Regions from separate parts of the Homo sapiens genome. Here region 2 is linked to region 1. Evidence: fine-mapped expression QTL. Tissue or cell type: whole blood. Region 1 holds a variant in brackets; the other region holds the start of a gene. All regions are shown on one strand. Distances are between the middles of the regions.

What was found. PIP is the estimated chance that this variant, and not a neighbour inherited with it, causes the effect.
Region 2: it holds the start of NIPSNAP3A, and the variant in region 1 is fine-mapped to the expression of NIPSNAP3A in whole blood (TOPMed, PIP above 0.99).

What each region holds. Positions count from the first base shown.
Region 1 is chr9:104,782,571-104,787,787 of GRCh38, forward strand. ABCA1 (ATP binding cassette subfamily A member 1) reads right to left here. Exons shown (of 50, transcript NM_005502.4): 47 at 4,303-4,406; 48 at 3,728-3,820; 49 at 2,826-3,069; 50 at 1-1,885. The coding sequence ends at 1,745. It also overlaps a transcript of NIPSNAP3B not described here. Among named protein-coding and RNA genes, the nearest start is that of NIPSNAP3B, 21 kb to the left of the region's middle. The variant A/G (reference allele first, on the strand shown) is at 2,050.
Region 2 is chr9:104,745,800-104,750,933 of GRCh38, forward strand. It overlaps NIPSNAP3A (nipsnap homolog 3A), which reads left to right and starts at 1,884. Exons shown (of 6, transcript NM_015469.3): 1 at 1,884-2,053. The coding sequence starts at 1,994. It overlaps LOC107987105 (a long non-coding RNA gene), which reads right to left and starts at 1,840. Exons shown (of 5, transcript XR_007061705.1): 1 at 1,650-1,840. RefSeq lists a silencer at 1,778-1,867 and an enhancer at 2,288-2,447.

The sequences.
Region 1 (5,217 bases):
TAAGACTGGGTTAGAAAACTCTGAAAAATGCTCCATATGGAAGTATTTGTTGTTTTTATATTTTTCTTGACTAGTGATTGAAGAGATGAAAAATTTGAGACTGTCAGATTTAATGGGGTATCCAATATCTGCAAAGCCAATTATTTGAAGGTACTAAATGCCATAAACACAAGTTGTGTTTTTCAGCAAGTTTTCAAGCTAGCTGTTTTCCCTGTTGAAGAATTCATTGTTTAGACTTGTGACCCTTATACTTTCTTGGCTTTTGCATTGTTGCAATTAAAAAAAAAAAAAAAAAGGCTGCCCAGTATTGTTACAGTGGGCTCCTACAACCACAAGACAACCTATATTTGTAAACCAGTGAGCTGAATAACATGGCACAGGAAGTGTACTGAGACTTAATATCTCTCTAGTCTTATACGTACGTACATACTCTTTCAGCTACAGCATACACTCAAAAAATATTTGATTGATGAAGTGAGATTAAGAGTATCCTAAATGATCTGAAAGAAACTCAAATATAATGTCATGAGATCCTGACCATCACATTGCTTTCTAGGCACTAGTCATGACTGATATGCAAACTTACATAAGAAAATAAAAATAGTGGGGCAGTGGCCATACTCCTCTATACCACAGGGTTCTACAAAGAGGCCATTCTAAGGATTCAGAAGTCACTGATAGAACTTAAAATTCCAAATAACATTAAAAAGTACAAACATTTTTGTCAAAATACAACTCCATCTTTTCATTTTCTAGATTAATTCAAAAAGCCAGAAATAATACACTTGTGTCAGATAAACATCTTGAGATGCAGTGTACCATGTTAGCAGACAGTCAGGACAAATGGGCACAGGCTTCCCTAGGTTTGAACGCACAATCTCTTTAATCCCATGCCCTGGCTTCAGCAGCTTGCAGCCCCAGCAGTTTGGCTGTTGATTCTTTGCCTCTTACCAGGATCTAAGTATATTTAAGAGTCTCATAAGGATGACCCTGTAGACCCATGGCTCGAAGCATAGGACAATATAACAATGGAACCAAGTTTCCCGTGCCTGGAGACACCCACATTTTTGTTGCATGTTACTGCCACCAGAACAGCTTATCAGAGGGAATCAAAGCAGGATGTTAGCCACGCATGGCACCATTCTGTCAACTGATATTCAATGTTGATAGACTCTGAGCAGAGCAGCTTTCACAAAAGTGAGCATGACACACCATGGTGCTTCAAACTTTCTGAAAAACTTGGCACTAATAACTCTGGCACACTCATTGCCAGCAATGGATGTGTCACCGGGAAACCAGTCTCCTGGGCATGGCATGGCTTAGTGAATGAGGATGTGCATTACCTTTTGATTTTGATCAATAATCGCTGGCCATGATTACTTGATGAATTATTGTTGCAACCCCAATGAGAATACACAGGAACAAAAAAAAAAAAAAAAGTGTGAGTTCAAACCCATATGTCCATTGGGTTCCATAATAGAGTTTCACATAGGTATAGGTAAAAAACTAAATTCAAGTCTTTCACTTGAGAGCCATACAAGACATAGGCTACAAAGGCACTGCCCCTGTAATGGAATTTTGTTTTCATTGCATTGAATTGCATTGCATTGAATAGTATCAGTACAGTATCCAGTTTACTTCTTCCCACATCAACTTCTGGCTCTTTTCTCCACAACACTTCACATGGTGCAAAGGAAAGTCTAGTTCCTCTTTACTTTCAGCCACCCCGTATGAACAGGATTCTTCATACATAGCTTTCTTTCACTTTCTCATCCTGTAGAAAAGATGTGAGAACTGCAACGTCCACTACTGTCTGGTTTTTGTGTAATGAGAGGTCTTTTAAGTGGTCATCATCACTTTGGTCCTTGGCAAAGTTCACAAATACCTGTTAAAAGATTAAGATGGACCTTTATAAATACCACTCAACTTGCTCATTCTTTATTCTAGTTCTATTTTTCCAGATGTTGAAATTAGGTCAAGTAGGAGCATACAGAATTACATAAATGGATTAACTAGAAAACTGTGTGTGAAGGAGGGAAGAATACTTGA[A/G]AAAAGCAATAACAACTTAAAAATAGACTTTTTTTCCCCCCTTGAAATGGGGTCTTGCTCTGTCCCCAGGCTGGAGTGCAGTGGCGAGACCTTGGCTCACTGTAACCTCCACCTCCTGGGTTCGAGCAATTCTCCTGCCTCAGCCTCGCAAGTAGCTGGGACTACAAGTGCGCACCACCATGCCCAGCTAATTTTTGTATTTTTAGTAGAGACGGGGTTTCACCCTGTTGGCCAGGATTATCTGGATCTCCTGACCTCATGATCTGCCTGCTCCTCAGCCTCCCAAAGTGCTGGGATTACAGGCATGAGCCACCACGCCCGGCCAAAAACTGACTTTCTATATCGCCCCCCACCCCTACATCACCAACTGCTCAGTCATCCATTTACTTTGGCACATACGGTCTTGATTAAAGGGAAGAGGGAAGAAAATATTTACTGAGTACTTCTTAAGTGTCAGGACCTATTTGGTACTTTTTTATCTAATTTAAATAGGATTAGGCACCAAGTAAAATGCCTGGCCCATGGTAGGTGCTCACTAAATGGTAGTTTTTATGGTTATTATTACAGTAAATTCTCACAATAATCCTATAGAGTACATAGGCATCATCTCCCTTTTCAGGTTCAGAGAGGTTTAGTAAAAAGCATAGCTAGGAATAGTAGATCAGGAATTCAAGCACCAATTCAAGATACAAACTGCTCTTGGACCTATGGGCGGGAGTGTCGGGGCAGGAATCCACACCCTGAGAAGTAAATCTGTTTTGACACTCAAAGCTTACTTGGTCAAGTGTTGTCTGAGAAACAGAGTAGTCTTCTATGTGGAGTCGCTTTTTGCTCTGGGAGAGGATGCTGAATATCCTGGCCAGAGAAGATAATGAAGATGGAAGCTGGTATTGTAGCATGTTCCGGTGTTTCTCTTTTAGAACACTTCCAGGAAATGCAAGTCCAAAGAAATCCTGGACAGGCTTCAGGTCCGGGTTGGACCCTGCTATTCGTACAACTATTGTATAACCATCTCCAAACCTGAAAGCAGGAAAAAATACCCAAATGGAGGATCTCCAGAAAACTATTTAAAAGAATACTGAACCCTGGGAACCCAACTTGTGCCATGAAAAAGGGCGGCCCCTGGCAGGCCCAGAAATAAGTTTCTGAGAGAAGGAACCAGTTATCATTTACTAAATACTTATTTTATGTGAAGCACCATGCCATGTGCTGTAAATACATGATCTCCTTTAATCCTCACCTGGACCCATGAAGTCTGACAGATGTTACAGAGAAACTGAGGCCCAGGGAGTTAGTCACTTGCCCATGGCTCAGAGCTCATAATTGGTAGGGCCAGGATGCAAACCCATTTGTGTTTGACTCCAAAGCTTGCGCTCTCACCAGTACTGGCACATGTAAATTTTTTTCATTTCATCTATAGCACAAAGCTAGGAGGTAGATCTTCCAGGGAAACTAACTCTTACAGTAGTTAAGTCACTTGCCCAAGAGTCACAGAACCAGTAAATGGTAAAGACAGAATTTGAATGCAGTTCGGACTTCAAAGCCCTCATTCTTTCCACTATACTGTTTTGCTCAGTTTTATTTCCCTTTATGTTAGAGGCACCATTTATATACTCACAAAAGAATAAATATCAAGCCTTCTCACTAGGCACTATCCCAAAGAAATTATCTTTATTACCTATTTTTTAGATGCTGGACACTGCCAAGGCACCTGAACCTTCCATTGACCATGATTGCCATCCTAGTGCAAAGAGCTTCACATTCTTCCATACTGCGGTAAAACAGAAAGAGGTTTTAGTTTTAGAGAGATTCTCTGTAACCATGAGAACATCACCATGACTTCCAGCATTCCAGCTTCCTAGGGAATTGTATTCTGTTACAAGTACATGTGGATATAGGGATGATGCTGTTCAGTGTAGTGGTGTTTACAATTGTGAACAAGTTGGAAATAATCCAAATGTCTACAAAAGGGGGAATAGTTAAATAAGAGTATATCCTAATGGAATACTATCCAGCTATAAGAAATGACACCTAAATGCACTGACTTGGAATAATGTTTACAATATATTAAGTGAAAAAGAGCAGTATTTATACTGGGCTTGCATTTTTGTAAGAATATGCATATATAATTTCAGGTAATAATTGTTTTACTCTTTGCTTTTCTGTATTTTCTAATTTTTACAAAATGATCGCATATTCTACTTGGAAAGTTAAAACATCCCACAGTGAGGAACCCAAGACTTTACTACGGACCTATGAGATGTAAGCACTACTGATCTCCCCTCCTTGACAACACTTAGGGCACAATTCCACAAGAACCGCCGGGCTTTGGGATCCATGCCTGTGGTGGGTTCATCCTGTAATTAGAATAAAATAAGTCTTATTTGCTGGGGGGAAAAAAAATCAAAGATAAATTTGTTTTTAAATGCAGAAGCATCTTTGAAACAGCTTAAATTTTAACTTGCCATTCTAGTTATTTCTTGATGAATCAAAGAATTAGAGTAACTTTCAAATTCATTTGTAAACAAGGTCATTATTATAAATGTCTTATTGATGCAGGAAACTCAAATATTCTGAGTACTTTTTTATGTAATTAAATTTCTCCAAATAAATAGGGAAGGAAAAAGGCCATTTAGTTGTAATTATCTTTTCATGACTGATAAGTATATACAAAACAACTTTTTGTCTGAAACCTCTATTGAAGTCAGTATAAGATTGGGGTGAAATTCCTTTTTTTTTTTAATTCCAGCTCACTCAGATTACCCTAGTATATTGCAACTGTTAGCCTTACAGAAACAAATTCCAGACCGAGGTGGAATACATAAAAGCCTCAAAGGCTTCTTCCCGTAATAACATCAATGCTCTTATCTACAGAAGAAAAAAGGTCAAGGGCCACTTCCCAGTCTGATCTGTTTTTCATCTATCCGTGTGTAAGGAACTATGACCTAGTTGCTACCTTGGGGATTTTAAAGCTGTGTCCACACTCTTCATTTTCAGGGAATGAACACAAAGATGATTAGAAAGAATGTTCCAGAGAAAGATCAAATCACATATCCAGCCTCAATCACGCTAAGAAACAAAGTGCTTGGAGTGCCTCTATTTGGGAGCATCTGCAGGCATGGTACAGCCACCCCAGTGTGTGCCAAGGGAGAAGCTTCCCTCTGCTTT
Region 2 (5,134 bases), 37 kb before region 1:
ACTAAGTATAGAAGAGCTACCTGCCAACTAGAAAAACCCACTTTGTATTCTTATAAAAAATAAACTCCTATAGTGTTTGAGTAATAATACACTTTTTTGAGTGTTGATTTACAAGAGCTATTTAATCTACCCTAATTAATATATTATTGAAAGATACTACCAAATGCTGAGTGTTCTGGCCTTCTTCCCTCCTCAGCCTCAGGAAACTGGCAGCAAGGCTTTTCTCACACAGATAAGATACTGGAAGTTTCCCTTCCCTAACACTGACTACACAGATAAATAACTTGCAGATAACAGTTTGGGGGGAGGGGATACAGCCTTCAGTGAAATACCCAGGTCAGATCACCTCACAGTGAAGCCCACTATTTGAAGAGATTCACCTGTGCTTACAGTGCTTTTAACATGTTTTTCTCACTCCAAAATATATTTTTAATGTAAACATCAATAAACGCAGGAAGGAAAGTGTATTTTGAGGGAGTGGTATGAAGAAACCTAAATCCTAAATATCCAAGTCAATAGCTAGAATCCTGACCACTTTTAGAATTCCACTAGCACCTTTATTCGTATCTTACTTTATTTTTCTTTATATTATTTGACAATCCCTGATATATTTACTCTTCCTTTTTTTATCTGTTTCCTCCATCCTGGATGTTCCAAGAGGACGGGACTTTGAATTTTGCTCAATTCTGTACCCCAGTTTCTGGAAAAGTGCCTGGAACATGGAAGGAATTTAGTAAATATCTGTTGAATAAGTAAATGGATTGGCAATTACAGGGTTTAAAAAAAAAGGTCTAAGAAAATAATTTACTCATATAGATCCAGTCCTGATACAAATGATTTTTTTAGTCTTGCATGGTTACAAATAGATGTCTCTCTTCTAGAAAAACTGAGGCAACCCTTCCGAAATAACTAATTTTAAAAAGTCTCCCTTCCTTTGAACAGACAATTCCAAAGCTCTTCCACAAGGCACAACCAATACAACCCAGGTCATGGCCCTGCAATCCCTCCCTAGTCCTCATGATGTAAGCAATATTACATTAATGTTTACAATAATGTAATTATTAGCAAGAATAATGTAAACATTAATATAGATTACTGTAAATTAATAGTGTAATTAATTACTGTAAATTAACATAAGCATTATTAGATGCAGGAAGACAAGTGAATTTGGGGGCAGTGGCATCTATGAGACATAAATCCTCATCTGCCACAGAAGGAAGTCAACACATACTATCCATAACTGAAAATGCAATAAACAGCAGAAAACACTACTTACTTAAAAATACAGAAACAAGCATTAAATGAAACAGCTTGAAATGTTGAAGGTGGTTACTCTGGGAACCAACACTCCCGGACTGGGAGGACTAGACCAGGGTATGTTTAACTTTGACTTTTTCATTTCAGGCTCGATGCTGCCATTTCTCTGAGCTCGTGGAAAATTTAATCTAAATCTTAATTAGGAGCCTTCTAAGATGGAGAACACATTCATTGCAGAGAGGTCAGGCTCAAATACACGTCTATCACAACATCTAAAACTTAACTCGGAAAAAACCTCCACGATTTTAAATACAAAGCACTGCACATGCACGCACTCAACACCTCTCCTTCTTTCCCCATGGTCAACACACCCACAACCCCTGCACATTTACCAATCTACACAACTGAGCACTGGAGCGAATGAGGTGAGTGAGGGCCCAGAAAGTTGAAGCAGGAACGATCCGAGCCTTCAGTTAATCCTAACGTCACCTCTAACGTTTGGGGTAAGAACGTTTCAGGAAACCAAGGGGGAACCAACGCTCAGCACAGCAGAGAAAGACACCAAGCTACGGGACCCGCCGCGCCTCCCGCGCCGGGGTGGAGCTGACCCCGCCGAGCCCCGCCCCAGCCTGCGTCTGCCAATGATCCAGGAGCCGCTCCTTTCCACTCGGGAAACCTTCAGAGGAGTCTCAGAAAGGACACGGCTGGCTGCTTTTCTCAGCGCCGAAGCCGCGCCATGCTCGTCCTCAGAAGCGCCCTGACTCGGGCGCTGGCCTCACGGACGCTGGCGCCTCAGGTACCGGCCACGGGGGTACCCAAGCCTTCACCCGACGGGAGGGGAGGGGCGGGGCGGGGAGTGTTCCGGGTACGTGCGAGCAATGCGCATGCGCTCTCCGCCACGCGCGCCCAGACCTGGGGCCCCGGTGAGGTTCTAGCGTGAGCCCCGGAACCCCAAGACAGGGGTACCCGGAACGCGCGTGAGGAGGAGGCCGCTGCTAGGGGAATACCCCCAGCCGGGGTCGTCTCGCGGGCAGTGGTGGTCAGAAGGCTTTTCTAGCCTGGATGCCACACCCACCGGGACACTCCCATGGCGCCGGCTGTTTCGTTTTTGCTGCCCAGCTATGTCGCGGCTGCGGCCCAGCGAGCGCTCCCATGTTGTCACCTGGCGCTGTGGAGCCGCGGGTGGAGTCGTAGCTTTCCAAGCCACCGCCCTCTCTAGACATCAGGTTGAAGGAGGGAATTGTCAACCAGCCGCTTGCCACGGAACCGGCCTCCCCCTTTTAAATGAAGCACACAACTTCCGAGCATTTCGCGGAGACCCTTGAAGAGGAGGCCCAGGGTCCCGGTGGGGCTGGACCCTGCCCGCCACCCGCGCTTCGTGTGGTCGCTCCCCCAACCAGGCGGGACCGGAGCCTCCTATCAAACCGGACGATGACAGACAGACTCTTTTAACCTTAGATGAGAAATGGACAAAATGGAGCTTGTGATTCTGCCCTAACTTTCGGGAGTGGCCTATTCTGTGGCTTCAACCTAGAAATTTCTTTTCCTTTTGATGTTTAGGACTTTACTCCTTTCTGAAGGGGCAGGATGGGAAGGGGATTAACCTGTCCTAGAGACAGACTGAGGAGCACTAAAGAAGAGCAGCTCATGTCCATTCACCCCGGGTTAACAATGCAGTTTTTACCCTAATGATTCTCCAGTGGGGCAGGGCCAGGAATGACGTCCTTATGGCATGATTCCAAACTTTAAGTTTTTAGAAATGTCCATCAGTTGTTCTCTTTTAAGTGAAGTGGAGGTCGTTGCTGGTGGGAATGATCCCTAACTTGGAGATAAGGGAGGATGGACGACTCATGATTTCTGCCCTAGCAGCTAAAAGTCATCCCTGCAACAAAATTCTTAACTCCCATCCGGCTCCCCCACCATACCCGGCTCCCCTGCAGTCTTCCTTCTCTGGCACCACCTGTCCACATCTCTCTCCCTCTCTCACTGTAGGTTCCCTACTGTATATTAATACTGCCCAAAATTGTAAAAATGTGTACCTTTGATCAACTATTTTATCCTCCAAATACAAATTCCTCGAATCAACCTGAAATCCATTTGTCACAAATGCCCCATTGGCCTATCTCCTGATATATTTTATTATAATAATTTTGAAATTATGGATACTAGGCACTTGCTTCTTGACCAACATTGTTACTAGAGTTTGGTTTAAAAGCACAAAAAGAGTGTCCACAAAAGGCAGGGGCAGCTGCAGCTGTTTTTGTTGGTAGGCTTAGTCATTTGAGCAATAAGAATATAAGTCACACACGAATAGAATTAACTCTAGATAATTATCATTAAGCCTTATCATACACAGTTACATAATTTTGTATTTTGTAAACAAAAATATGTCGGAGCAAAAGCCTACTGCTTTCAGACAGACATACTGGCTAGTCAGTATAAGCCCTAATTTGTCCATAGCTTTGTAGGTATCAAAACTGTCTTCACAGATTATTCTGGTGTAATCAACTTAAGGAAATGGCACATGCTATTCAAACTTAAGTAAGATGGATTTATAAGAATATCACGAATGCCTGTGTGTATACCATGAGTGCATATATATATGTGTGTGTGCGTATGTGTGTGTGTATGTGTATACATATATACACATAGATACCTACATAGAGGATAATCTTAGGCGAGGTATTTCTTACAGAAAGTTCAACCAGAACACAAATTAGAAATTTACAGTGCGTGTATGACTATTACAAAAGGAATTAATGGTTCTTAAGTGATATTTTCATCAATGTGGTATAAGTGGATTCATTAAATGTTGTTCACATTGCATCTGTAATTAGAAACTAATAAGAAAATTTTGACTCTGAATTTTCTTTTCTCAGCATTCATGTTCTACCATTATATTACAATGCAATTGGATAGGTCAGAGCTTTTTATTGCATTAGTTACATTCCAGTCCTAATTTTGGTCAGTGGTTTACTTCATTGAATTAGGAAATACTTTGACCTGAACTGTAATTTCCATTTTTTTCAAGAACCTAAAAGAGTTTTCTTCTAGTAAACATTTTTTTCATTATGCCTGCCAAAAGTTACGTGCGTAGTTAATAAAGTTCTTTGATGTGCATAACTGTAACACGTATGCTCTTGACTAAAGATGCAATATTGGCTAATAGGAAAACTTTTGTAAATTTGTTAGAATCCTAATTGTAGTTCTTGGATAAAGAAGTATCATTAAGATCTCAGCGCCTTCTTATGAGCAATTTCTGAAAAAGTGGCTAAAGGTGACAGTGAACCCCCACTAGGAAACAGTAACTACACACTCAGCATATTTAAGAGTAGTTGTCTTTATTGACACCTCTATGTAAACAAATGTATATGTGAAGCAGGAGAATAGGGTCTTGAGGCAGGGAACCTAAGGACTTCCTAGAACTAAATCAAACCCTTCAGCTATGACAAGAAATACCCTCTTCATTTACATAGGGTGTACACAGAGTAAATGACTTTGCAACTTTACTTCATCCTCTTCATTTATATACGGCTTACACCACATAGCCAATGGGACACCTCTAGAGGGTACTGAAACCCTAGAAAATTCTGTAACCAGGGCCCTTGAGCCACTTGCTCAGGCCCACTCCTACCCTGTGGAGTGTGCTTTCATTTTCAATAGATCTCTGCTTTTGTTACTTCATTCTTTCCTTGCTTTGTGCATTTTGTCCAGTTCTTTGTTCAAACACCAAGAACCTGGACACCCTCCATCAGTAACATATTGAGAATTGACAACAGAAGTACAAACATGAGTAATGAGTCTATGAGTGTCCCTTGTACCAGATTCAGATTAGGTTTTAACACAATATAATGAATCCTGTCTTCTCAAGATATTT